Linked DNA regions of Homo sapiens: all the other regions are reported to be linked to region 2. The links are microRNA targets in miRTarBase. Many come from high-throughput screens and were not tested one by one. Region 2 holds a microRNA gene; each other region holds the end of a gene's coding sequence.
The links. Region 2 holds the annotated microRNA hsa-miR-874-5p (CGGCCCCACGCACCAGGGUAAGA, at 4,662-4,684, shown strand). A microRNA usually pairs through its seed, bases 2 to 8, with sites in the 3' UTR of a target mRNA and lowers its output. Matches are read on the target gene's strand: a 7mer-m8 pairs with bases 2 to 8, a 7mer-A1 pairs with bases 2 to 7 and ends in A, and an 8mer does both.

Region 1 (8,039 bases), not on the chromosome of region 2:
AGGGGACTGAGAGCTCTCTCAGGTGGCTTGGGAAGGACCAGGAGAAAATGCACAGACAAGGCTACAGACAGGAGAGAGGAGGCCTGCAGGCAAAGTGGGAGTGGGGAAGGCACCGGGCTCAGGCAGCCCTAGGACAGCTGCTCCCATGCGCCCACAAGCCTGAGGGCCTCCCCCACATTCTACGGAGAAGTTCAGGGCAGCACTTTTGGCCGTGGCTGGGCAGTGTCTGCGGGGAGGCATTTCTGATGTTTGTGTGCCCTTGAAGCCTGAGCTCAGCCAGGAGCACAAGGGCGAGTTTCCCGGCCCCTGCTGCCTTGCTTTCTCTTGATTGAGAAAGGAACCAAAGATCAAAAGGCAGTGAAGAATTGGGGACTCTGAGAAGGGTGACTTTCCAAGGCTTGGACCCCTTAGCAGCTTTGCGGCCTAGGGGCACTTGACCCCTGTGTGATAAGCCGAATCCTCTTTGTCTTAGGTGGGGAATTGGTAGCTGGCTCATCCCTTGCCCCAGCACCTGCAGCAGCGTGGCAAACACTTGGCCAACATGCGCTGAAGGACTGGTCGACAGAGTCCCACGACTGGCTGCTTCAATACTGACCCCCTGAGGGCACTGAGAAGGCTCTGAAGCCGTCTCCAAGAGCAGTTTCATGTGTGCTAGGAGCTGCAGCCACATGGGACTGGGCCTGTGCGTGCTATCCTGGGGCTTCAGGGGGAACCAGCCCTCCAGCCTGCTAAGCGACCAGCAGCAACGCTCGGGCCAAGGCCCTGCATTTTGCTGCTGGCCGTCCTTGGGTGGGTGAGGCTACAGAGGTCTGGACTGGAGGTTGTGGTTGGGGGCCACAGGTCTAGAGCAAAGGGAGGCAGGTGGGCGGGCCTTGTGGGGGGTTCCCTAAAATCCATCAGGTGTGGTGGTCCTGAGGTGAGTTTCTGATATCTGTCCAAGCAGCCATCAGGGGCCAGTCCCTTCCACCAGGAACAGTGAGGCTTGCCCACCACCGAAGCGCTGCTCCCCACCCCCTCAGCCTCGCTCCCCCACCTAGTGCAGCCACCACTGCCATTCCTAGTTCTCTACCAGGACCCCAGGGCTTAGCACTGCCCACCCCTGCTGCTGGTGGATCTCTCCAGGTCTTCTGTTAAGGCATTTTTATCTTTTTTTTCCCTTAAAATTCCCATGACAGATTACATAAAAGCATTTTTAAAGCATGTTCACCGTACTAAAAAAAATTAGGATTTAGAAGAAAACCTAAAGGGGGGAGGAAAAAACCCCCTATAACCCTGCCCCTCAGGGAGCACCAGCAGTGAACCTGCAGTGGATTCACTTCTGGGCGGCAGCCGAGCTCCCATGTGGGACAAGTGCCATGCAGGCTTCGAGGATGGCGGAGCGGGGTGGCGGGAGCAGGGGGCAGAAGAAAGGCTCAGTGCTTTGTTCTTTTTTTGAGACAAGGTCTTGCTCTGTCACCCAGGATGGAGTGCAGTGGCGCAATCCTAGCTCACTGCAGCCTCAAGCTCCTCAAACTTAAGCGATCCTCCTGCCTCAGCCTCCTAAGTAGCTGGGACTACAGGCTTGTGCCATCATACTGGGGCTAATTTTTTGATTATCTGTAGAGATGGGGGTCTCCCTATGTTGCCCAGGCTGGTCTCAAACTCCTGAGCGCAAGAGATCCTCCCACCTCAGCCTCCCAAAGTGCTGGGATTACAGGTGTGCGCCACCACACCTGGCCTCAGGAGGTGCCAGGAGGGTATAAATGGTGGGCCTCAAGAGCGTCATGTCAGAGGGTCTCCATCCTCAGGATGGAACCTCCTGGGGCACATCAGGCTCCTGGATAAAATGAGGGGTCCTCAATGCTCCTGTGGCTCCCCAATGTCATGTGAGGTCCCAGGGGCTTAATCCCTTTCCTGTCACCTTCCTGCTGCTGGTGGGGGTGGGCTCAGAGCCCCTCAGGGAGGAAAATCAGGTTGCTGGCTAGACCAGGAGGGTGTAGGCCACCAGGGCTCTCTCCAGAATTTGTCTGCTCGCTTCGCAAGATTTGCAGATGGTCCCCAATATTAAAGCAGCTTCCAAACACATCTGGACATCAAAGGGGACAAGATGCTCAGAAGTCAGGAAGAAGGCAGGACTCGGGCGACAGAGTTCAGAACTTGTGGTTTATTGACACTTCTGCATGGTGGGTCCTTGGGAGACTGCCTTTCTGGCATCTTGGGACTTGTCCCTAAGAATAGGGAAGACAGTCATCCTGTCCTGGAGCAAAGCTCCCCCTTGCACAGGAACACAACTCCCATGCAGGAGAAGCCCACCGAGACGAACGCAGATAAACCCTTCGCAAGGCCTGCACTGCACCGGAATGGCAGAGCTCCGTGCATTTGGCAAAGCTATGGAGCCTTGGCAGAATGCACAGGACTCTGGGGGCTGCCCCCCTTGAGCTACAGAGGCAGAATCGAACCAAAAACACTGCTTCCTTTAACACAGCCCAACTGGCTTACATTTAGCTTGGGACGAGGCTAGGCCTAAGAAGGGCCAGAGCTGTCCTCCCAGCCCTGGGAACACGGCTGAGACGGCCCGGTGCCCACGCTGGGCTCACCATAGGAGAGGAGAGGAGAGGGAGGGGGCCCCATACTGGCCCTGCCGTCTGCACCCCGTCCCTTTCCCCACTAAACACACCCATTTCCTATCCTGGGTTCTGAGGCTGGGACTGCCTCTGGGATTCTGAGGGACTGCCCTCCACCCCTGCAGGCCTGGGCTCAGAGTCAGCCACACCTGTAAGGCAGGCCCTGCTTCCCCAGCTTTTGTATTCCATATACGGTGCTGGCATGTGGAGCTCCATTCTTCTCCAGCCCACTTAATTTTAAGAATAGACACTAATAAGACTTAACCACCCCAACCTGCTGGCAGCAGGAGGGCCCCTGTGTGCTGGCAGCATCTCCCCAGGACACGCCGGCTCACCTGCACCCACAGCGTTCTAGGAGGTCGCGGCCTCTGCAGACTCAGTGCAACCCCTGGGCCTTACAAAAGGGACACTCAGAGGTGCACTGCCTGCTCAGCTCACACAAGGAACAAGTGGAGAGCTGGGCTGGAGAAAGGATTACAATTTACAGACCAGTGTCCCTGGCTAGGGGCCCTCATGGGACTGTGGCTGGAAGAGAAGGTCGCCCCGGAGGTTGGAGGCTGAAGACACCTGGTGCTTCTTGGTGCAGTCCTGGTCAAGATGGAAGAGCGCTCCTCTGTGCCCAGCTGCTGTGCAGGGGTGGACGAGGGCTCCCTCGGCCCCAAGGCAAGGGCGGAGCAGCTCCCAGTGCTGGCACCAGACCTCTGCCAGGCACGGGGCATGGCCATCCTCTGGGGTCCTGGCTCAGGGGTGGGGAGCGGCAGTGCTGGGACAAGCCTGGGGAAAGGGTTTCCCATACACTGAGGCTGCGAGATCTTCCAGTGGAGCCTCAGGCTAGGGTATGAATCAGACCACCAGGTGATAGGAGCCAAACCTCCACATGGTGAAACTTCACTCTCGGCAGCCAGGAACAGAATTATTAGCAAAGAAAAGAGAAAAGCAGATGCCAATCATTCTCTCTCTTCGTCAAGGTTATGCCCACGGGCAGGGTGGGCTAGTGGTGAGGGTGGAGCTGCGTCCCTGACCCCCAGAAGGAGACAGCAGGCCTTCAAGTTAAGCCAAGCAATACTTGGTCATTGTTTGTGGCCAACCATTCTCTGAATGTCTGAATGACAGCGACTATGTTTAAGGTTTTTTTTTGTAAATAAGAGACCTTAAGCAATGCATTGACTGCATGGTCTCAACCTCATCTGTGCTGTGAGAATGAGGGGTAAGGCTGGGCATGCAGGTAGGGCCCCAGCAAAGCTGGCTCCCCGCTCCCTGTGGGACAGAGGGCTCCCACCGGGAAGGCGGCTCTAGCGTGCCTCCTCGGCGAGCTGAGAGGAGGCCAAGGTGCTTGGGGCACAGCTGTGCAAACCTTCCTGGGGCTCTCGCTGTCTGCAGGTGGACTCTGAATGCCTTCATGGGGACCACACAGCCCAGCTTCCTCCCTTTCTCCTCTCCTCCCCCTGCACTGCTCTGACCTGCCTGGAGCAGCCCTGCCCACCTCCAGCTCAGCCCTTCCTGTGGCTTGGCCCTGCAGATGGCCTCTGAGTCCTCCCCTAGCCCCCTGCCCTCTTCCCTCTACCCGACACCCTCCCCCAGCCTTGCCACTTTCAACTTTGCACGCCCTCAGTGAGCTCCCTGAGGCACCCAGGATCGGTCACTTGTGAGCCCCCTCTCAGGGTGCACTAGGGGACGTGGAGCTCTCATGCCTGTTCAGGGCATGGGGCAGAGCAAGGCAGGCGTGCTGCCAGCCACCGCGGCAAGGTGAGGGGCTGTGGCCTGTGCCATGGACTCCCAGCAGCATCCCTGCTGCCTCCAGACTGAGACAGAGACCCACGGGCTGCCTCTGTGCTTGCCTGAGCCTCTTAATTAAGAGTCTTTCCCAATGAGACCAATTTGATTACAAATTCACAAGATATTTGGGAATGTTCCAATCACACAGCAGCAAGGTCCCTCTGCCTGGGATCCAGCCAGGCCCAAGGGGGTGGGAATGCAGGCAGATGGGCCAAGGTCACCCGGGATGCCCAGAGCCCCGCTGTCGGGCCCAGGCACCACTACGTGGCAGTCGCAGCTCCTGCCAGTCACCTGGGCAGCGGGGGGAGGGGAGAACCTTGGGGGTGTTCAGCATCACAAAGAGGCGGAAAACTCTTCCAGAAAGATCTCACCAAAATCATGCCTCCCTAACAAAACAAATCCTGCTTTTCTAAAAACCTCAATGGGCCTATCCGAGCCCACTGCAGTCCTAGTTTCTTCAAAGCTGTGTAAGGCACTTGAATGGCTTATTAACACCACCTGGAAAAGTTCCTGTTTCAATCCTGATTTAGAAAATAAATTCAATAATACTGCAAAAAAAGGTTCCTTGAAAAATAGCTTTAAAAAAGTAAATACTTAAGTTTTCTAAAGAATAAAATAAATGCTAAGCTCTGCTTAAATTATATGACACAACAGGTCATCTTGGCACTGATAAAACAAAGAGAAAACCTGGAATACTGCTTCGGAATTAGACCTCCCTGGAAAAAAACAAACACACCAACAAAAGACACATGTGCGTCGCCGGTTCCGGGCTCAGGGAAGAGAGCAGCCCGGAAGGCCCTGGTGGGCCCAAGCACATCATGGCTGCCCTGGAGTGGGGGCAGGGGGGTGGCTGCTACAGAACAGACCCCTGGCTCTGCTGCGCTCTCCTCTTTGGGACACTGGTGTGGCCGACCAGGACTGGCTGGGCATATCTGTAAATATGAACCCACCTGGCCCTGGCCGCAGAGAGGAGCAATGGGAAACTGGGGCTGGCCACTCCGCTGCTGGGCCTGACCCAGGGGGTGCTTCAAGAGTTTGGCTCCTGGGTCCGCCCCAGGGTCCCACGTGCACAACCATGCTGCCCCATGCACACCAGTGTCTTTGGTTTGGCTGCCGTTGGGCACCTATGACCTCTGGTCCCACCCCGGGCCTAATAGGAGCTGGGAGCAAGAGCCGGTCCATCTTCTCTTTGGTGAGGTCTCCTAAGCTGCCTTCCACCATCTGCCCGCCACCCAGTGCAGTTCCACAGCCACCAGGACGGGCTGCGGGGGGTGTCCCGACTGGCTCTGGGGTGCTGGGGAAAGCACTGTGGGGCGGGCACCCTGTCCACTGCCTGCCACCTGTTGGGTCCTGAGGCTTCTGAGGGAGAGAAGGACAAGGATGGGAGGAAGGGGAGGGCAGGGGCCTGGAAACCACCTAGCTTCTTGGTGGAGCCTGGGTCTCAGGTTCTGGAAGGCTGGAGGGCAAGTCCTGCCTCCTCCCTTCTGCCTGGGGGTCCCCTTCTCCCTGGTTCCCGCCCTCCAGCAGCTCTTGGGGGTCCCTGAGGAAGACCACCATGACCGTGATGTTGTCGTGGGAGCCCCGCTCCCGGGCCGCAGCCACCAGCTCCTCGGCGACACGGAGCCCGCTGCCCTGCTGCCTGGTCAGGTGGCTCTGGACCAGGCCAACAACTTCCTGGTGGGGTACGACGTCAAAGAAGCCATCACAGGCAAGCAGCAGGTAGTCCTCGGAGCCCGTCAGCGCCCGGGAAGCTGCATCGGCCTCCCCAGACACGTAGGGCTTCTGGAAGACATCCCCTGGACAGGCGGAGAAGAGCCCGGGTCAGAGGACCACGGTGTCCACAGCTTCCTCCCCACCTACCCAGGCCTAGACCTCACATCCTGCAGGGACAGAGACCAACCTGCTCTCATGGGGTCTGGGGTCTGTTGCTCCCTTATGCAAACTGCCCAGTACTTCCCACTTGCCTGGGAACGGAAACCCCTGACCTTGGCCTGTGAGCTCCCCCTTTTTTTCTTTTTTCTTTTTTGAGATGGAGTCTTGCTCTGTCGCCAGGCTGCAGTGGCGCGATCTCAGCTCACTGCAACCTCTGCCTCCTGGGTTCAAGCGATTCCCCTGCCTCAGCCTCCCGAGTAGCTGGGATTACAGGCTCGCGCCACCATGCCCAGCTAATTGTTTTTTTTTTTTTTTGTATTTTAGTAGAGATGGGGTTTCACCATGTTGGCCAAGATGGTCTCGATCTCTTGACCTTGTGATCTGCCCACCTCAGCCTCCCAAAGTGCTGGGATTACAGGCATGAGCCACCACACCAGGCCGAGCTCCCTCTTTCTCTGCCCTAGCCGTCCCATCCTGGCCTCACTTCCTGGAGTGTCCAGAGACACAAGGAAAGACACAGCCTGAGGATGGGCTGTCAAGAAGGTGCCACATCTGCCAAAAAGGACAGAATGTTTCAGAGGGGTAGGTGCCAAATCCCTGGCAATCAGCTGGGGAGGGAGAGATTTTCTAAGTACCAGGAAGGAGGTGTGGTCACAGTGCCCACAGCCTGAGACCCGGCACTGACCGCATGCTGAGACAATGAGATGCAGGCTGGACCCACTTTTTTTTTTTTTTTTGAGATGGAGTTTCGCTCTTGTCGCCCAGGCTGCAGTGCAATGGTGCAATCTTGGCTCACCGCAACCTCCACCTCCAGGGTTCAGGTGATCCTGCTGCCTCAGCATCCCAAGTAGCTGCGATTACAGGCAGGCACCACCACGCCCGGCTAATGTTTTTTGTATTTTTAGTAGAGATGGGGTTTCACCATGTTGGTCAGGCTGGTCTCGAACTCCTGACCTCAGGTGATCCACCCGCCTTGGCCTCCCAAAGTGCTGGGATTACAGGCGTGAGCCACCGCGCCCAGCTACTTTTTTTTTTTTTTTTGAGACACAGTCTGGCTCTGTTGCCCAGGCTGGAGTGCAGTGGCACGATCTCCGCTTACTGTAACCTCCGCCTCTGGGTTCAAGCACTTCTCCTCCCTCAGCCTCCCAAGTAACTGAGATTACAGGCGCGTGCCACCACACCTGGCTAACTTTGTATTTTTTGTAGAGAAGGGGTTTCACCATGTTGGCCAGGCTGGTCTCGAACTCCCGATCTCAGGTGATCCGCCCACCTTGGCCTCCCAAAGTGCTGGGATTACAGGCGTGAGCCAGCATGCCCAGCCAGACCCATTACTTTTTAAAATTTTTATTTATTTTTATTATTATTTTTTGAGACAGAGTTTTCCTCGTTATCCAGGCTGGAGTGGAGTGGCGCGATCTCAGCTCACTGCAACCTCCGCCTTCTGGGTTCAAGTGATTCTCCTGCCTCAGCCTTCTGAATAGCTGGAATTACAGGGGCTCACTACCATGCCTGGCTAATTTTTTGTATTTTTTTTTTAGTAGACATGGGGTTTCATCAGGCTGGTCTCGAACTCCCGACCTCAGGTGATCCACCCACCTCGGCCTCCCAAAGTGCTGGGATTACAGGCGTGAGCCACCGCGCCCAGCGAACCCACTTTTTTCCCAAAAGAGAAAAAAGGATTGTCAGCATGAACGCGGGAGGAGGATAAACCTCATTTCCGGAATATTGGAAGCTCTACTTCCAGCCCATAGGGTGGTGAGCCACAGGTTTCTATGAGATTTGTAGGAG
Region 2 (8,039 bases):
TTGCTGGATTATATGGTAGTTCTATTTTTATTTTTTTGAGCAAGTTCCACACTGTTTTCCATGGTGGCTGTACTGTATTTGGAAGTGCATAAGTTTTTAATTTTTCAATTTTTTTCTGTTATGGTTTATTTTGTGCTCTATATAAAAAATCTTTGCCTAATTTGAAGTCACAGATTTTCTCCTATACTTTCTTCTAGAAGTTTTAGGTTTTACACTTAGGCCTATGGATCCATTTTGAGAAGTTTTTTTTTGTTGTTGTTCTTAATATGGTGCATGAGGTGAGAGTCTAAGGCTCATTTGTTTTGCATATGAATGTCCAGTTGTTCCACACTATTTATTGGGAAGATTCTCTGTTCTCCATTGAATTACCCTGTCACTTTTGTTATAAATAATTGACTGTATATGTGTTCGTCTATTTCTGGACTCTCTTCTGTTCCATTTTATCTGTCTACCTTTACACCAATACTATGTTGCCTCGATTACTAGCTTTCTAGTAAGTCTTAAAATTAGGCAATATGAGTCCTCCAGTTTTGTTCTTCAAAGTTGTTTTTGTGAGTCTAGGTCCTTTGCATTTCCATTAAATTTCAGAATCAACTTGTCTATCTACAAAAAAGCTTGTAGGGGTTCTGCTTGGAATGGTATTGAATCTCTAGATCAAATGGGGGAACTGCCATCTTAATAATATTAAATCTTTAGATCCATGAACACAGCATAACTCCATTTATGCAGGTCTTCTTTAATTTCTCTCATCAGTGTTTTATAGTTTTCAGTTTATGGGTCTTACATGTCTTTTGTTAGATCTATCCCTGGGTATTTTATTGTTTTAGATGCTATTGTAAATGTTTTCTTTTGAAATTCCAATTTCTAATTGTTTATTGCTGATAGGTAGAAATGTGATTGATGAGAAAGGTTATTTAATGGGGGAGAGGTCAGGTTGGTGATGGCTTCATTGCTTTTTGAACAACAAGGACAGTAGTTTCAGAAGATTACTGAGTAGCCCAGGCTGATGCCTCAGGCAGGCATTTAGGGCTCTCTTCTAGAGTGTTAGCTCCTCTACGCAACTGTAGGTTCCATGGCAGCAGGCATTACTCATCTGTGTCCTTGGCACACGGCCTCAATTAAAGAAATACATTTTTAAAGAAGAAATAACCTCATAGAGACTTAATACTGACCATTTATATCACCCCTCATTTTTTCCTGATGGGCTTATCAGCATTCATACCTGCGTTTTCACATGGCTTTAGTGAGGATTTATATCCTACTTTATATCCTCCTTTGACCACTAATGTAGGTTGACCCTAGAATGTTTGATTCAAGCCTACAAGTCCAAATTTGAATGAATCCAGTTGTCGTTCCTGGGGGTTAGAAGGGTTGTAAGGTTCTTTGTTTCTTTTCTTTCTTTCTTTCTTTTTTTTAAATCTGAAATCCAGCTATCAACAATCATGTATGCATTAATTCATTACTTTTTTTTTTTTTTTTTAGATGGAGTTTTGCTCCTGTTGCCCAGGCTGGAGTGCAATGGCACGATCTTGGCTCACTGCAACCTCTGATTCCTGGGTTCAAGCGATTCTCCTGCCTCAGCCACCCAAGTAGCTGGGATTACAGGCGCCTGCCACCATGCCCGGCTACGTTTTTTGTATTTTTAGTAGAGATGGGGTTTCACCATGTTGGTCAGGCTGGTCTCGAACTCCTGACCTCTGGTGATCCACCTTCCTCAGCCTCCCAAAGTGCTGGGATTACAGGCATGAGCCACCGTGCCTTGCCAATTCATTACTTTTTAATTCACTCATCCAACATACTTCCATAGAGAAACCACTAATTGCCAGGCACTGGGGTAAGTACTGGATTCACGAAGGCTGATATGAACTGGTCTCTTCCCCAGGGGACTCCCAGACCAGGAGGAGGGGAAACAGTTGTGAAAGGACAATTGCAATGGAGTGAGTAAATGCCCTCATAGGGGTACAGGAAAAACACTCTGGGAGCACAGAGAGGGGTAAGGAGTTAAGGAAAGCTTTCTGCAGGAGCTGACAGGAGCTGTGTCTCCAAGGTAAAACGCAAATTGTCTGTGAGAGTGAACATCCAGAAACTGGTTCAGGTGACTGCAGGAGAAAACTGGTTTACACCCTCTGGTGACCACTTAGAATAATTTGTACTTTGCATCTTCTTCCCTGGGTCATTGTCCTGGTCATCATCACCAAAGGTATTGATGATGATACAAGTAGTATTGTTTAAATACTAATTACTGAGCAGCTTCTTTGCATTATTAGCCTAAGTATGTAATGCCCATTATCTTATTTTGTCTTTATTACAACTCTGGAGGCTTTAATGTTGGAGACAACTGAGAATCGGTGAGATTGAGTAAGACTGAGTGATTTGCCCAGGGTTTTACAGCGCTTAAGTGGCAGTGTGAGGACTTGAATCCAAGTCTGGCTGACTCAAAGCCTGGGCTTTTAATCACTACATGATACTAGTACCCACAATAATGATAACAGCAGATATCAATTACTGAGCACTTATCATGTGCCAGCCACTGGGCTAAGTGACTTATATTTGTTATCTCATAGGATTTTCATAACTGTAATTATCCCCATTTTGCAGATGAGGAAGTTGGACCTTGGGTTATGTCACCCACTTATTATGCATTAGTTATCTATTTCTGCATTACAAATTACCCTACGATGGCTTAACACAATAAACATCTATCATCTCACAGTTTCTGTGGGCAGGAATCCTGGAGTGGCTTAGCTGGGTCCTTTTGACCCAGGGTCTCTCATACAGTCAAGCTGTTGGTCGGGGTGCAGTTATTTCAGGCTTGTTTGGGGAGGATCTGATTCTAAGCTCACTCATGTGGTTGCTGGCAGGCCTGTTTCTTGCCATGTGGGCCTCTCCATAAGCTGCTTGAGTGTCCTCATGACATGCTGGCTTTCTTCCAGAGAGGGTGATTCTAGAGCAAGAAAATGAGAGCACACATCTAACACAGAAGCTGTAGTGTTTTTATAACCTAATGTCAAAATCCATGTCCCATCACTTCTGTCTTTTATTTGCTAGATACAAGTCACTAAGTCTAGCCCACACTTAAGGGGAGAGGTATTAAGTTCCACGTCTGAGTGTAGTAGTATCACAGAATTTGTGACCCATCTTTAAAGCACAATTAGTAAATGGCTGAGTTGAGGTTTAAGCCTAGGATGACTGGCCCGAGGCCCTGTGCTCTGAACTGTTTTATTATATTGCTTCCAAATGTCACAAAAGCATTATAGCCGAATGCTGTGTTGAAAGAAACCTGATTCCTGCCCTTTGGGGACTTTTAATTTTAAGAAGTCTCTCTGAGAAAGTAAGATAGACATATATGAACAACCAAATAAGTAGAGAAAGAAGAAAAATCAGGAGATAATTGGACTAGTTGGAGAAGCAGGCATAGGAATTCCAAGGGCAGGCTGGTTTGTGCTTTCATAAATTCAGTCCAGATAGGCTTTCTGGCAGAGCAAACTTTGAAAAACAACATGGTGGAGAGAGACCTGCACTATATTCAGTAATTCTCAGCAGTAACTCTGTTTGCCAGCCAAGTCCTTTCCCTGAGAGGAACAGGACTCTGCCTTGAGATAGCTGCAGAGGCTAATAAAGGTGTTTTTCCTGAGCCATATATGCACAGAGCATACTGACACATCCCAGCCGGAACAGCTAACAGCATCATCTTGGCTCCCACACATTCACCGCCCAGCACTTTTCCTGAGGCTGGGTTGCCATGGACAACCCGAGGCTGTCTCCCAGCCACTCAGAAGTCTCCTACGTTACCCTGTTCCACAGATGGCAGCAAGGAAATGAGGTTTCAGGAAGATGCAAATGAACCTTTTGGAAATGTACTGAACCTGGCACTTTTCACTGTCATTCCAGTTCAGTTGGCATCTCTATTCAGCTCTTTAAAAATGCTACTGAAACGCCATTTGGGCTGGAAGTGGGTGGCTTGCTCCTGAGTTGGGCTGTCCTGCTTTCAGTAGATGGTATTTGAAGAAGCTGTTGACAGGGTGGATGGGATGACCTCTCATTTGGCCCAGGCCCCTGGATGGGCACTGCCCCCTTCCACCTTGGTCCACACCCTGACAAGCACCCTGGGGTCCTGAAAAAGCCCCATAATCACCCCTAGAATTAGTGGTACTTACCCTCCCTCACAGGTTCATAGTATCCTTTTCTACCTTTCATTGGGAATCTGTTTTTTAGCACCTGCCTTAGAAGCTAATAATGACACTAGTGTTAATCAGATAACATTTAGTGTTTACTATTTATCAAGCATTGTGCTAAGTGCTTCATATCATTTAAGCCTCCTGACACCCATATGGGAAGCATCCTATTATCCTGATATTACAAGTTATGAAAATGAGGCTTAGCAAGGTTCAATGTCTTGCTCATAGCCACACAGCTATATAGTGACTGGGCTGATACTATATTTGGGCCCAGATGTGTCTGATTCCAAAGCCCATTTTTTCCACTCCTCTTCTCTCCCCCCGGGCCTTGCCCTCATATTACCTGGTTCTCAGACCCCCATTTTCTCTGCACCTTGCTATCAGTACTTGCCTAGAGCAACTGTTGCTCAGGAACCTGCTTGGACAAGTCTTCTGGCTCGACCTCGACATGCTCCATCGGATGAATTGTTGGTGTTAGCCCTGCGGCCCCACGCACCAGGGTAAGAGAGACTCTCGCTTCCTGCCCTGGCCCGAGGGACCGACTGGCTGGGCCTGCCTTCTGCCCAGCTCACCGGTCACAGAAGAGAGTTTGGACATGCATTCTACTCTTGCCCGATGAAAAAAGTGTGTAGAGCCCAGATTGTTCCTCTCACCTGAGTAGAAATTTGAATGACCTATGTAGTCCTGAGGCCAGGGCTAGGGTCTTGATCTACACGTAGGCTGGAAATCTCTATTCTCTTCATGGATTGTCCCTTTCCCTGGCTAGTCCCTGGCACCTAATGGCTCTCAGACACAGGGTGGTTGTGATTTCGGTGAGGAGGGACCAACATGCCTTCAATCCCACAGTCACGCTGGTAGAATCAGAATCATCTATGTAAACAAGAGAGCATTATATATTTATTTTTAAAAATGTTATGCTGGGAGTAAAATTTCCTTCCTAAGGAATCAGGTAGTCTTTTGCTTGGGCTCACTAATCTTCCTAAAATAAATGGCTATTTGACTTTTCAAAATGACAGTGTTTTCCTTGGGAGGTATCTAATAACCATCTCTGCTACAGTGGAGTTCAGCTCACTCATATTCTGTCAACCAGAGAACCTCCATTCACCAGAACTTCTGCAGCCTTCAACACAGTGACAGTTGAGACTTGGGATCAGAACTTTGAGGCACCCTGCCAAACTCCTAAGTATGCTGCAGTTCACGAGAGTGATTAAATTATGTTCAGTCTAGCATAATTGTTCACCTAGAGCCAGTTCTTTAGTTTGTGATTCCTACGTGACTGATAGTTCTTACTCAGGGTTACCTTGAAAGATAAATGTTAAAAATAGTGATCATTAAATAAGCTGATTTGATTGAGTAATTTCTAATAAAGGCATATTAATCTTAAGTATATTGGGGTTTAGGAGTGTTGGGGAAAGAAAGAAACATGCTTGTTGAACTCCCTGGGCCTGGGTGTTTCTGGAATATAAAATGAGGGCATATAGGAGAGAATGGTTCAAGTCTCTTCCTCTAACATCTTGTGGTCTTCTTAAGTAGCTAGAAGTTTGTGATTTCAGAGATGTGATACATGTAGACTGTGGGAAATACTCGTATTTGCCTAACTGCTTGCTAACATCAGGTATCCATGGAAACAACTATCCATTAGCACTCATGATAGGAAATTTATTCTTTTTACTCTGCATGATCAACACAGTAGTGGGTGTAGTGCTCCATGTATGAGTGCTTCTTGCAACACCTACCATAAAAATTGGATTTCTTTTGACCATACTGGGCTGTACTAATTTACTTTCCCACCAGCAGGGTATAAGAGTTCCTCTTTCTCCACATCCTTGCCAGCAGTTATCTTTTGTCTTTTCTGCAGTAGACCTTCTAATTGGGGTGAGGTGATATCTCGTTGTGATTTTCATTTGCATTTCCCAGATAAATAGTGATGTTGAGCATTTTTTTTCATATACTTGTTGGTCATTCATATATCTTTTTTAGAGAAATACCTGTTTAGATCTTTTTGCCCATTTTTGAATCAGATTATCTGTTTTTCTGTTATTTAGTTGTTTGAGTTCCTTATATATTCTGGGTATTAACACCTTGTCAAATGTGTGCTTTTGGCATGTTTGTCGAAAATCAGTTGGCTGTAAATGTGTGGATTTATTTCTAGGTTCTCTAATTTTAGATTCCATTGGTCTATGTGTCTGTTTTTATGCCAGTACCATGCTGTTTTAGTTACTCTAGCTTTGCTGTATATTTTGAAGTCAGGTAGCATGATGCCCCCAGCTTTGTTCCTTTTGCTCTAGATTGTTTGGCTATTCCCATATGAGTTTTAGATTTTTTTTTTTCTTATTTTTGTGAAGAATGTCATTGGTAGTTTGATAAGGATTACATTGAATCTTTAGATTGCTTTAGGTAGTATGAGCATTTTAACATTATTAATTCTTTCCATGATCATGGAATATCTTTCCATTTATTTGTGTCCTCTTCAATTTCTTTCGTCAATGTTTTATAGTTTTCATTGTAGAGATCTTTTACCTCTGTGGTTAAATTTATTCCTAGTTATTTTATTTTTTTTTGTAGCTATTGTTAATGAGTTTTTTTCTTTATTTCTTTTTCAGATAGTTCACTATTAGTGTATAGGAACACCACTAAGTTTTGTATGTTGATTTTGTATCCTGCCACTTTGCCAATTCATTTATTCATTCTAATAGTTTTTTGGTGGCGTCTTTAGGCTTTTTAATATATAAGATCATATTCTCTGCAAGCAGTTTGACTTTCTCCTTTCAATTTGAATGTACTTCATTTCTTTCTCTTGCCTGATTGCTCTGGCTAGGACTTCCAGTACTATGTTGGATAGAAGTGGAGAAAGTGGGCATCCTTGTCTTGTTCCAATTCTTAGAGGAAAAGCTTTCAACTTTCCCCTTTCTAGTATGATGTTAGCTGCGGGTTTGTCATATATGGCCTCTATTATGTTGAGTTACATTCCTTCTATTTCTAATTTGTTGAGAGTTTTTATTATGAAGGGATGTTGAGTTTTATCAAATGCTTTTTCTGCATCTATTGAAATGATTATGTGGTTTTTGTCTTTGATTCTGTTAATGTGACGTATCGTTTTTATTGATTTGTGTTATATTGAACCATCCTTGCATCCCTAGGATGAATCTATTTGATCACGGTAAATGATCTTTTCAATGTGCTGTTGAATTTCATTTGCTAGTATTTTGTTATGGATTTTTGTATCTGTGTTCATCATGGATATTGGTCTATAGTTTTCTTTTTTGTCATGCCCTTGTCTAGTTTGGTATTAGAGTAGTCCTGGCTTCAAAGAATAAATCTGGAAGTATTCCCTCCCTTTCAATATTTTAGAATAGTTTGAGAATAACTGGTATTAGTTCTGCTTTAAATGTTTGTTAGAATTCAGCAGTGAAACTATCAGGTTCTGGGCTTTTCTTTGATAGCAGACTTTTTATTAGTGATTCAATCTTGTTGCTTGTTATTGGTCTGTTTGGGTTTTCTGTTTCTTCATGATTCTATATTGGTTGGTTGTATGTGTCCAGGAAAAATTAAAAGTAGAACTACCATATGACCCTGCAATCCCATACTGGGTATGCATCCAAAGGAAATTAAATCAGCATGTTGAAGAGATATCTGTACTCTCATGTTTATTTCAGCAGTATTCACAATAGCCAAAAAACAGCATCAACCTAAGTGCCCATCAACAGATGAATGGATTTTAAAATGAGGTATATATACTATTCAACTATAAAAAGGCCGGGCACAGTGGCTCATGCTTGTAATCCCAGCACTTTGGGAGGCCGAGGCGAGTGGATCACCTTAGGTCAGGAGTTCAAGACCAGACTGACCAACATGGTGAAA
Region 3 (8,039 bases), not on the chromosome of region 2:
CTGGCCTGGCGCTGGTCTATGCCAAGGAACAGCTGTTTGCTGAAGCATCAGGTGCCCGGCCAGGGGTGCCCAAAGTGCTGGTGTGGGTGACAGATGGCGGCTCCAGCGACCCTGTGGGCCCCCCCATGCAGGAGCTCAAGGACCTGGGCGTCACCGTGTTCATTGTCAGCACCGGCCGAGGCAACTTCCTGGAGCTGTCAGCCGCTGCCTCAGCCCCTGCCGAGAAGCACCTGCACTTTGTGGACGTGGATGACCTGCACATCATTGTCCAAGAGCTGAGGGGCTCCATTCTCGGTATGCGGGAGGAGGCAGGGCCCAGGGAGCCCTAGCTGGGAGCCGCAGAAGGAGAGGCTGGGTTGAGACTTTGGGAAGATCTCATGTCCCCAGAGCAGCGGCCAGGGCCTCCGGGGCTGTGGTACCCCTAGGGTGCAGGGCTGAGTGATGCAGCTTGTCTATGCACACTCTTCACTGGGCGACCCGTGTACCCTGCTGAGACGGGGGCAGGCTTGAGTAGCCACCTCCAGGTGTAGCTCCCTGCTGATGTGTCCAGCCCAGACCTCGAGGCCCCAGGGAGTGCAGAGCCCGGGTGTAGGCCCAGGAAGAAGCTTCCAAGTCTGGGGACTCTGCAGATGGGCAGCATGTGCTCCTGAGCATGCCCACCATACCTGGAGAGGGGTGAGCCAGAAAGGTCAGGGACTGCCCCCCCAGAGAGCACAGGGCACCTCTCCTGGGTGGGGACAGCCGCCGAGGGCTTTGAACTAGTTCGGACTGCAGGCCCACTGTGAGGGTTTCCTGAGAGGCCGGACCAGGGAAGGCCTGAGGCAGGAGCTGAGCAGCTCCCATTGGCTTTTTTTCTGGACCTCCCTGCCCCAGCCAAGCCCTGAAGGAGCTGGGGCTGGAGATGAGGAACCGGCCACTGGCTCAGCCTGCTGCAGCCACTGAAAAATGCCAACCCTGGGGATCTCACCAAGTCTCCGTCTGTGGGTTAATCATCCACCCAGAGCCGGAAGGGGTTGGACTGTGGGTTGGAGAGGGGTGGACGGCCCTCCCCAAGGTTTCCCCAGGGACGTCTGGCCCCTAGTGGCCCCAGGTCACCCAGTGCAGCTGCGCCTGGAGGGGACCAGGAGGAAAGGCTGCCTTAAGCAGCCAAAGGAAAAGCCTGAGGCTGCAGTGCCGAGGGGCCAGGCAGCAGGGTGGGGGCTCCTGGGAAAGAGGCCGGGTCTGAGGGTGGGGGATGGGAAGAAAGTGGCCCAGGCACCCAGCACTGCAGGAGGAAGATCCTGATAGCTTTAACCCAGCGCAGACATTTATGAGCCTCGCCACAGCAGGGTCACTCAGAGGGCTATGTGGGGCTTGGTGTCACAGGTCCAGGAGTCCCCCTCTGGAGAACCCCACCCCACACTCTCCTGGGGACCCAGGGCAGGCAGCGCCTCCAGAACCCCAGGGCCTGCCCCTGTGGTCTCCCATCTCCTAGCTGCAGCTCAGAGAGCCGGGCTGACCTCAGACCCCGGCCTGGCCACTCAGGCTGGGGCTGGTCCTCTGCTCTCAGGCACCACCGTGGACTCTGCCGTCTTTGAGGACCTTTGTCCTGGTCACTGATCTGGCCACTGCACCTCTCCACAAAGGACTGGGTTTGGGGCTAAGGGAGGCAGGGGCGCTTCTGACAGGGCCTGAGGGGGCTGCACCCTTTCCTCCGTCCTCCCCCAGCCAAGGCACGTTCTGAGAATCCCCAGCATCTGCGGGGCATGGCTCCAGCAGCTCCTTGGCCGCGGGGCCCCGTCTTTCCTAGTGGGGCCTCCAATCTCCAGATCTTCCCCATCAGCCAGGGCCGCCCTCCAGCAGCGGAGGAGGAACTGACCGCTGTTCCCTGACCCCCTGCACCACCCACAGACGCGATGCGGCCGCAGCAGCTCCATGCCACGGAGATCACGTCCAGCGGCTTCCGCCTGGCCTGGCCACCCCTGCTGACCGCAGACTCGGGCTACTATGTGCTGGAGCTGGTGCCCAGCGCCCAGCCGGGGGCTGCAAGACGCCAGCAGCTGCCAGGGAACGCCACGGACTGGATCTGGGCCGGCCTCGACCCGGACACGGACTACGACGTGGCGCTAGTGCCTGAGTCCAACGTGCGCCTCCTGAGGCCCCAGATCCTGCGGGTGCGCACGCGGCCCGGTGAGGCAGGGCCGGGGGCTTCGGGCCCGGAGTCGGGGGCTGGGCCGGCCCCCACGCAGCTCGCCGCCCTCCCCGCCCCAGAGGAGGCCGGGCCAGAGCGCATCGTCATCTCCCACGCCCGGCCGCGCAGCCTCCGCGTGAGTTGGGCCCCAGCGCTGGGCTCAGCCGCGGCGCTCGGCTACCACGTGCAGTTCGGGCCGCTGCGGGGCGGGGAGGCGCAGCGGGTGGAGGTGCCCGCGGGCCGCAACTGCACCACGCTGCAGGGCCTGGCGCCGGGCACCGCCTACCTGGTGACCGTGACCGCCGCCTTCCGCTCGGGCCGCGAGAGCGCGCTGTCCGCCAAGGCCTGCACGCCCGACGGCCCGCGCCCGCGCCCACGCCCCGTGCCCCGCGCCCCGACCCCGGGGACCGCCAGCCGTGAGCCGTAAGCCGGCGTCCCCGCCCAGCCGAGAGGGCCGGCGCCTACCTGAGGGCCCCTGTGTCCCGAACCCGGAGCGGAGGCGCCCAACCCGGCAGACGGGTGCAGGCCCGGCCTTTCCCCACGCGGACTCCGCGCGACCCCGGCCCTCTCCCTGCGGCCGCAGGGCTTCCCCGCCTGGCGCCTGCCCTCCAGGGCTGGGGCCTCGCCTGGCGGGACCCCGCAGCAGCCCCGGCCCCATCCCCGCCCAGAGCCGGGCGTCGTGTGGGTCCGTGGGTGATAATTGAGAGCGTCAGACCCAGGACTGTTCAGGGAGGAGCCCCGGTCAGACTCCCACGTGTGAAGACCGGGCCCCAAGTGGCAAGGGCTGGCCTGGGGCGGGCAGCTTGGGTCCTGGACGTTGATAGGAAGCGGAAGGGGAATCGCGGGAAGCTGGCCCAGGTCAGGTCCGCAAAGGCTTCTGAAGAAGAGGAAGGGCGAGTAGGGGCACCTGGACGCTGATGGTGGCCAGGATGCTCAGCTGGCCAGGAGGGCAGCACCTGCTGGGGACGGTGGCCCTGCCTTCATGCCCAGGACACCAGCTGGGTCCAGCTAGCAGCCACTGGGAATCAGAGGAATGGGGCAGAGCTGGGCATTCAGGACCTTGAGGACACGTGACCCCACCCGCCCACCGCCACTATCAGGCCCCGGGACCGCACTGACAGGAAACCTTCCGTCGTGAGGGAGCACTTCCCAGGGGCCGCAGGGACGACACTCTCCAGGGAGGCCCCAGCAACCACACCATCTTCTTGCTGTGAGAGGTCTCACCCCGGGCTACCTCCTGTCACTACTCACTGCCCTGGGGTCCGTGGGCAAGTTGCCCAGGGTGGGGGTGCCTAGCCAGGTGCAGTCCCCGCCCCGCCTAGTCCTCGGCGTCACGCAATGCTCACCTCGCCTCTTCCCCACTAACATCCCAGACTTTAAAATTCAGTAAATCAGATGTACACCGAGCCTGCAGTCTCGCTAGGATGCTTTACTCCTCCACAAACAGCAGCCGCCGACAGGACAGCTTGTGAACGTCTCCGCCTTTTGGGGTGTCCGGGGAGAGGAGGTGGAGCTGTCCCCTCCCAGTGTCAGGCCTCCTTGGTCCTCATGTGCACCTTTTATTCAGAGAGCTTGGGCCCCCTTCCTTTGGAGCTGGGCCCAGGGCAGGTGGCTGGAATGCAGAGGACAAGGGGGCTGGGGCCTCTGCAGGGCCATTCCCACCGCAGTCTCTGCCACGGCCCGGAGCCCTGGGCCCAGGGCCACGCGGGCTCCCTCTGCTGGCAAAGCCACACCCTGCACCGCATGGGGTCCACTGCCCCTTTCCCCACGTGGACTCTGCGTGACCCCAGGAACTGCAGCATTGAGGTGGTCTCAGTCCCTCCCTCAGGTCTGGTGGGCATTGTGCCAGGGGCCACCTTCGGGACAGCTGGCCTTGGCACCGTCTCCCAAGAACCCAGCTCTGTGCATCCCGTGGCCCCACCAGAAACCCAAGGCCACACCGCCCACCAGCTGGGTGTGGTCACCATTCATGGAGGGCCGGCTGGGGCCAGGCTCACCACGCAGAGTTTGCCCTCCGGTGTGATGATGCATGAGACACAGTAGGCCCCCCTGCCTGTGTGTGCAGGGGGTGTCTGTGGGGGGGCCCTGCTGGCTGGACTTTGGGTTTCTCCTGAGCTCCCCTTAGCCCCCAAGTCAGGCCACGGAGGCCTGAGTAGGACCCATGGGCTGTGTGTGTCACTGCAGGTGGCGTGCTCACAACTGCACTGCTGGTCGGCAGGTGGCCAGGGTTGCAGGCCCGGGCCTCGGGCCCCACCTCCTCTGGAGGGGTAGGATCTCCTTCGTGCAGCCCCTGCCCCCTACCCTGTTCTCCGGAGTGTTGGCAGATCTGAGCCCACGGTCACGTGAGAGGAGATGCCTCTTGCACACTGAGCCCAGGCCCAGCTCACGGAGCACCCTGCAGGTGGCAGCGGGGCACCAGGGGCTCATTCCTGGTGGCCTCAGTGGCTTCTGTGGACGACTCAGACTCACATGAGAAGCTGGGAGGAGCTCCAGCTCTGCAATCCCGAGAGGGCAGAGCGGGGGCCCTGGCCACAACCCTGCTCCCCACATACCCGTCTGGCAGAGGCTCTGCCTCCCCTCTGCCCATCTCTGCACACCAAGGCTGAGCACAGCACAAGGCCTCACGGAGAGGGTGAAAAGGCACTGCCGTCTCCATCTCAGTGCCAAGGAATGCCCCTTTCAGAAGCCCTCGTCTGAGAAGTGCTGCCCCTTATGTAGCCCCAGGCATTTTAAAATCTTTGAATCTGCACCAAGTCTCAGAACAGCTCTGGCCCCGGAGTGCTCCGTCCAGGCCGCTGTGAACCGGCTGTCCCCGCGTCTCCTCCACCTCCCCTGACACAATCCTGGCCCCGACTCAGTCCACCCAGGGTGCAGTGCAGAGGCTGATACCCGCCAGGACTTCCTTGCCAAGGGCCCGGCCACGTCACAAGGCCACTGCACGCTTTTCGACATGCACCTGGAAATCGGGAAGGGCCATGCTGCAGTTGCTTCTAGTTGAGACGAGAAGAGCGACAAGGTTGTGATCCACGTGGCAGGTGTTCAGAAGGCTGGGGGCGGGCAGCGCTGGGGAGAGCCCTGGGTACTTCGAGGAGACCCCGAAGGGAGGCTGCTCCCACACCTGCGCCAGTTTCCACCCTCTCTGTGAGCAGGGCTGCGGTCACCTCCCACATCTGAAGAGAACCAACCTGAGGATTTCACGCTGGCTGCGTGCCAGACCAGTCCCTGACAGGTTGTGCGAGGCCCTTCGCTGGACAGCCCATTGCTGGCCACTGGACGGAGAGGCAGAGGGGGCTGAAATTCGGGCCCATGCCTCTGTGAGCGATGACGGAGCAACAGCTCTCCAGCACGTGAAGCTCTCCAGACAGCTGTTCGTGAGAAGCCAGACAGAGGCCTGGGGTCTCAGTCCAGATTTCTGGGGAGTGGGGTGTCCAAGCGTGGGCCACGCTGCTGGGAGCCACCTAGGGAAGCAGGTCGCCTGTTTCTATAGTGACGGTAATAAACCAAGTCAATTTTCTATAGTGACGGTGATAAACCAAGTCAATTTTCTATAGTGACGGTGATAAACCAAGTCAATTTTCTTTTCTTTTCTTTTCTTTTTTTGAGATGGAGTCTGGCTTTGTTGCCCAGGCTGGAGTGCAGTGGCACGATCTCGGCTCACTGCAAGCTCCGCCTCCTGGGTTGACGCCATTCTCCTGCCTCAGCCTCCCGAGTAGCTGGGACTAACAGGCGCCTGCCACCACGCCCGGCTAATTTCTTCTATTTTTAGTAGAGATGGGGTTTCACCGTGTTAGCCAGGATGGTCTCGATCTCCTGACCTGGTGATCCGCCCGCCTCGGCCTCCCAAAGTGCTGGGATTACAGGGGTGAGCCACCGCGCCCGGCCAAACCAAGTCAATTTTCTATAGTGACAGTAATAAACCAAGTCCAGTCCCCGAAGCACAGCCCACATGACAGCCTCCCGCCAGAGAGAGGACAGTTTAGGACTGTCAGCTCCCGGGCAGTAGCTGTGTGTTTCCTGCTTTTTTGGGGGGTGGGGGGAGACAAAGTCTTGTTCTGTCACCCAGGCTGGAGTGCAGCGGCGCAATCTCAGCTCACTGTAATCTCTGTCTCCCAGATTCAAGCGATTCTCCTGCCTCAGCCTCCTGAGTAGCTGGGATTACAGGTGCCACCATGCCCGGCTAATTTTTGTATTTTTAATAGAGACGGTTTCACCACGTTGGCCGGGCTGGTCTCGAACTCCTGACCTCAGGTGATCCAACCGCCTCAGCTTCCCAAAGTGCATGGATTACAGGTGTGAGCACCCTGCCTGGTCCCTTTTTTTTTTTTTTTTTTTTTTTTTTTTTTTTTTTTTTTTTTTTTTTTTTTTTTGAGACAGGATCTCACTCCTAGGCTGGAGTGCAGTAATGTACTCATAGCTCACTGCAGCCTGCATCTCCCAGGCTCAAACGATCCACCTCAGCCCTCCGAGCAGCTGGGACTACAGGCGCACCCCGCCACGCCCAGCTAATTTTTGTATTTTTAGTAGAGATGGGATTTTGCCGTGTTGCCCATGTTTGTCTTGAACTCCTGGGCACGAGTGATCCACACACCTCAGCCTCCCAAAGTGCTGGGATTACAGGTGTAAGTCACCACTCCTGGCAACATTTTTTTTTTTAGGGATAAGGGTCTTCCTGTTACCCAGGCTGTTCTCAAACTCCTGACCACAAAGGATTCTCTTGCCTTGGCCTCCCTCAGTGCTGGGACTGCAGACAGGAGCCACCGCGCCTGGCCTGGCACTGCTGCTTTCGTTTGCCTCTCGAGAATCAGTGCACTTTGAGGAGTGCTGGCAGGGGCTGATGGCTTTCAGGGAGCCCTATGGAGAACTGGGAGCCCTGCTTTTGGTGGGTGGTTGGGGCGGACCAGTAGCCCAGGGCCATACACTGGGGGCCGTGGCTCAGGAGGGTCCAGTTGGGCAGCTCTTCTTTTGGTTGTGCGAGGACCTGCCCATTGGGGAAGGAGCAGGGGGCCCATGCTGGCCCAGGCTGAGACCAGAACGAGTGGGGAAGGAGCAGGGGGCCCATGCTGGCCCAGGTTGAGACCAGAACTACTGGGTCATTTTGGAAGCTGGAGAGAAGGAATAGGAATGGGACCTGCCCCTCCCTCCTGAAGGCCGGGCCCCCGAGAAGAATGAGGCTGCAGAGTGATGTGGGGGCCAGCGGTGACTTCATGACCACACTGCGCCCAGGTGTAAGAGGGCACGCTTCTGCCCAGGCATCGTCCATGGAAGACACGCAGTCGGCCACTGCAGCCTCGGTCCTGGGTGCCCTGGGGCTGGGTCACTGGGGGCCACAGGCCACACTGAGAGACCACAGTCCTGGCATGCCATGCAGCTCCCTGTCCCCAGAGGTCTGCTCAGATGCAGAGAGCTCAGGAACCACACTCGCTGCCTGAATTCTGGGAGCAGAGCGTGGTACCCACTGCCTGGCTGGGGCCTACTCTGGGACTGCAGCCCCTGTCCCCGCTGGCCCAGGCTTCCGGAGGCAGCTGCGTCCCTGTCTTGGCTCAAGGTCAGGCCGGAGGCCAGGCTGTCCACCTGCATCTGGAACCTGCACAGTCACTCCTCCAGGTCCTCGCTGCTGGAGGACTCTCAGACAGGAAACCTTTGCTTTGGGGGCAGGGTGGGGTGCAGGGGTGGTCGGGGGAATCACAGCAACGAGACAGCACAGTGCCATGGCGCAGAGCCTCATATTGGTCGATGAAACAATGCTTTCTGAACTTTGTGTCCTTAGGAAGGGTGTAGGCTGTTGGTTGAAGTAGGAAACAGAAGAGGAGCCTGGGCACGCAACGGTCCCATCGGAGAGCAGACCCCTCGGCCTGGGCACGCAACGGGC

Region 1: miRTarBase lists PPM1F as a target of hsa-miR-874-5p. Seed matches in the 3' UTR shown: 7mer-m8 at 3,833-3,839, 7mer-m8 at 3,258-3,264 and 7mer-m8 at 2,603-2,609.
Region 3: the mRNA of VWA1 is a reported target of hsa-miR-874-5p. Seed matches in the 3' UTR shown: 7mer-m8 at 2,786-2,792, 7mer-m8 at 3,807-3,813, 7mer-A1 at 4,019-4,025 and 8mer at 4,153-4,160.

Annotation. Positions count from the first base shown.
Region 1 is chr22:21,917,297-21,925,335 of GRCh38, forward strand. PPM1F (protein phosphatase, Mg2+/Mn2+ dependent 1F) reads right to left here. Exons shown (of 8, transcript NM_014634.4): 8 at 2,129-6,175. The coding sequence ends at 5,796. Among named protein-coding and RNA genes, the nearest start is that of PPM1F-AS1, 17 kb to the right of the region's middle. RefSeq lists enhancers at 1-431, 2,607-3,266, 3,928-4,586.
Region 2 is chr5:137,644,263-137,652,301 of GRCh38, reverse strand. It overlaps MIR874 (microRNA 874), which reads left to right and starts at 4,653; the gene lies at 4,653-4,730. All of the region lies in intron 8 of KLHL3 (kelch like family member 3), which reads left to right.
Region 3 is chr1:1,437,191-1,445,229 of GRCh38, forward strand. VWA1 (von Willebrand factor A domain containing 1) reads left to right here. Exons shown (of 3, transcript NM_022834.5): 2 at 1-294; 3 at 1,891-5,692. The coding sequence ends at 2,597. Among named protein-coding and RNA genes, the nearest start is that of VWA1, 5.5 kb to the left of the region's middle. RefSeq lists enhancers at 3,623-3,672, 4,289-4,438.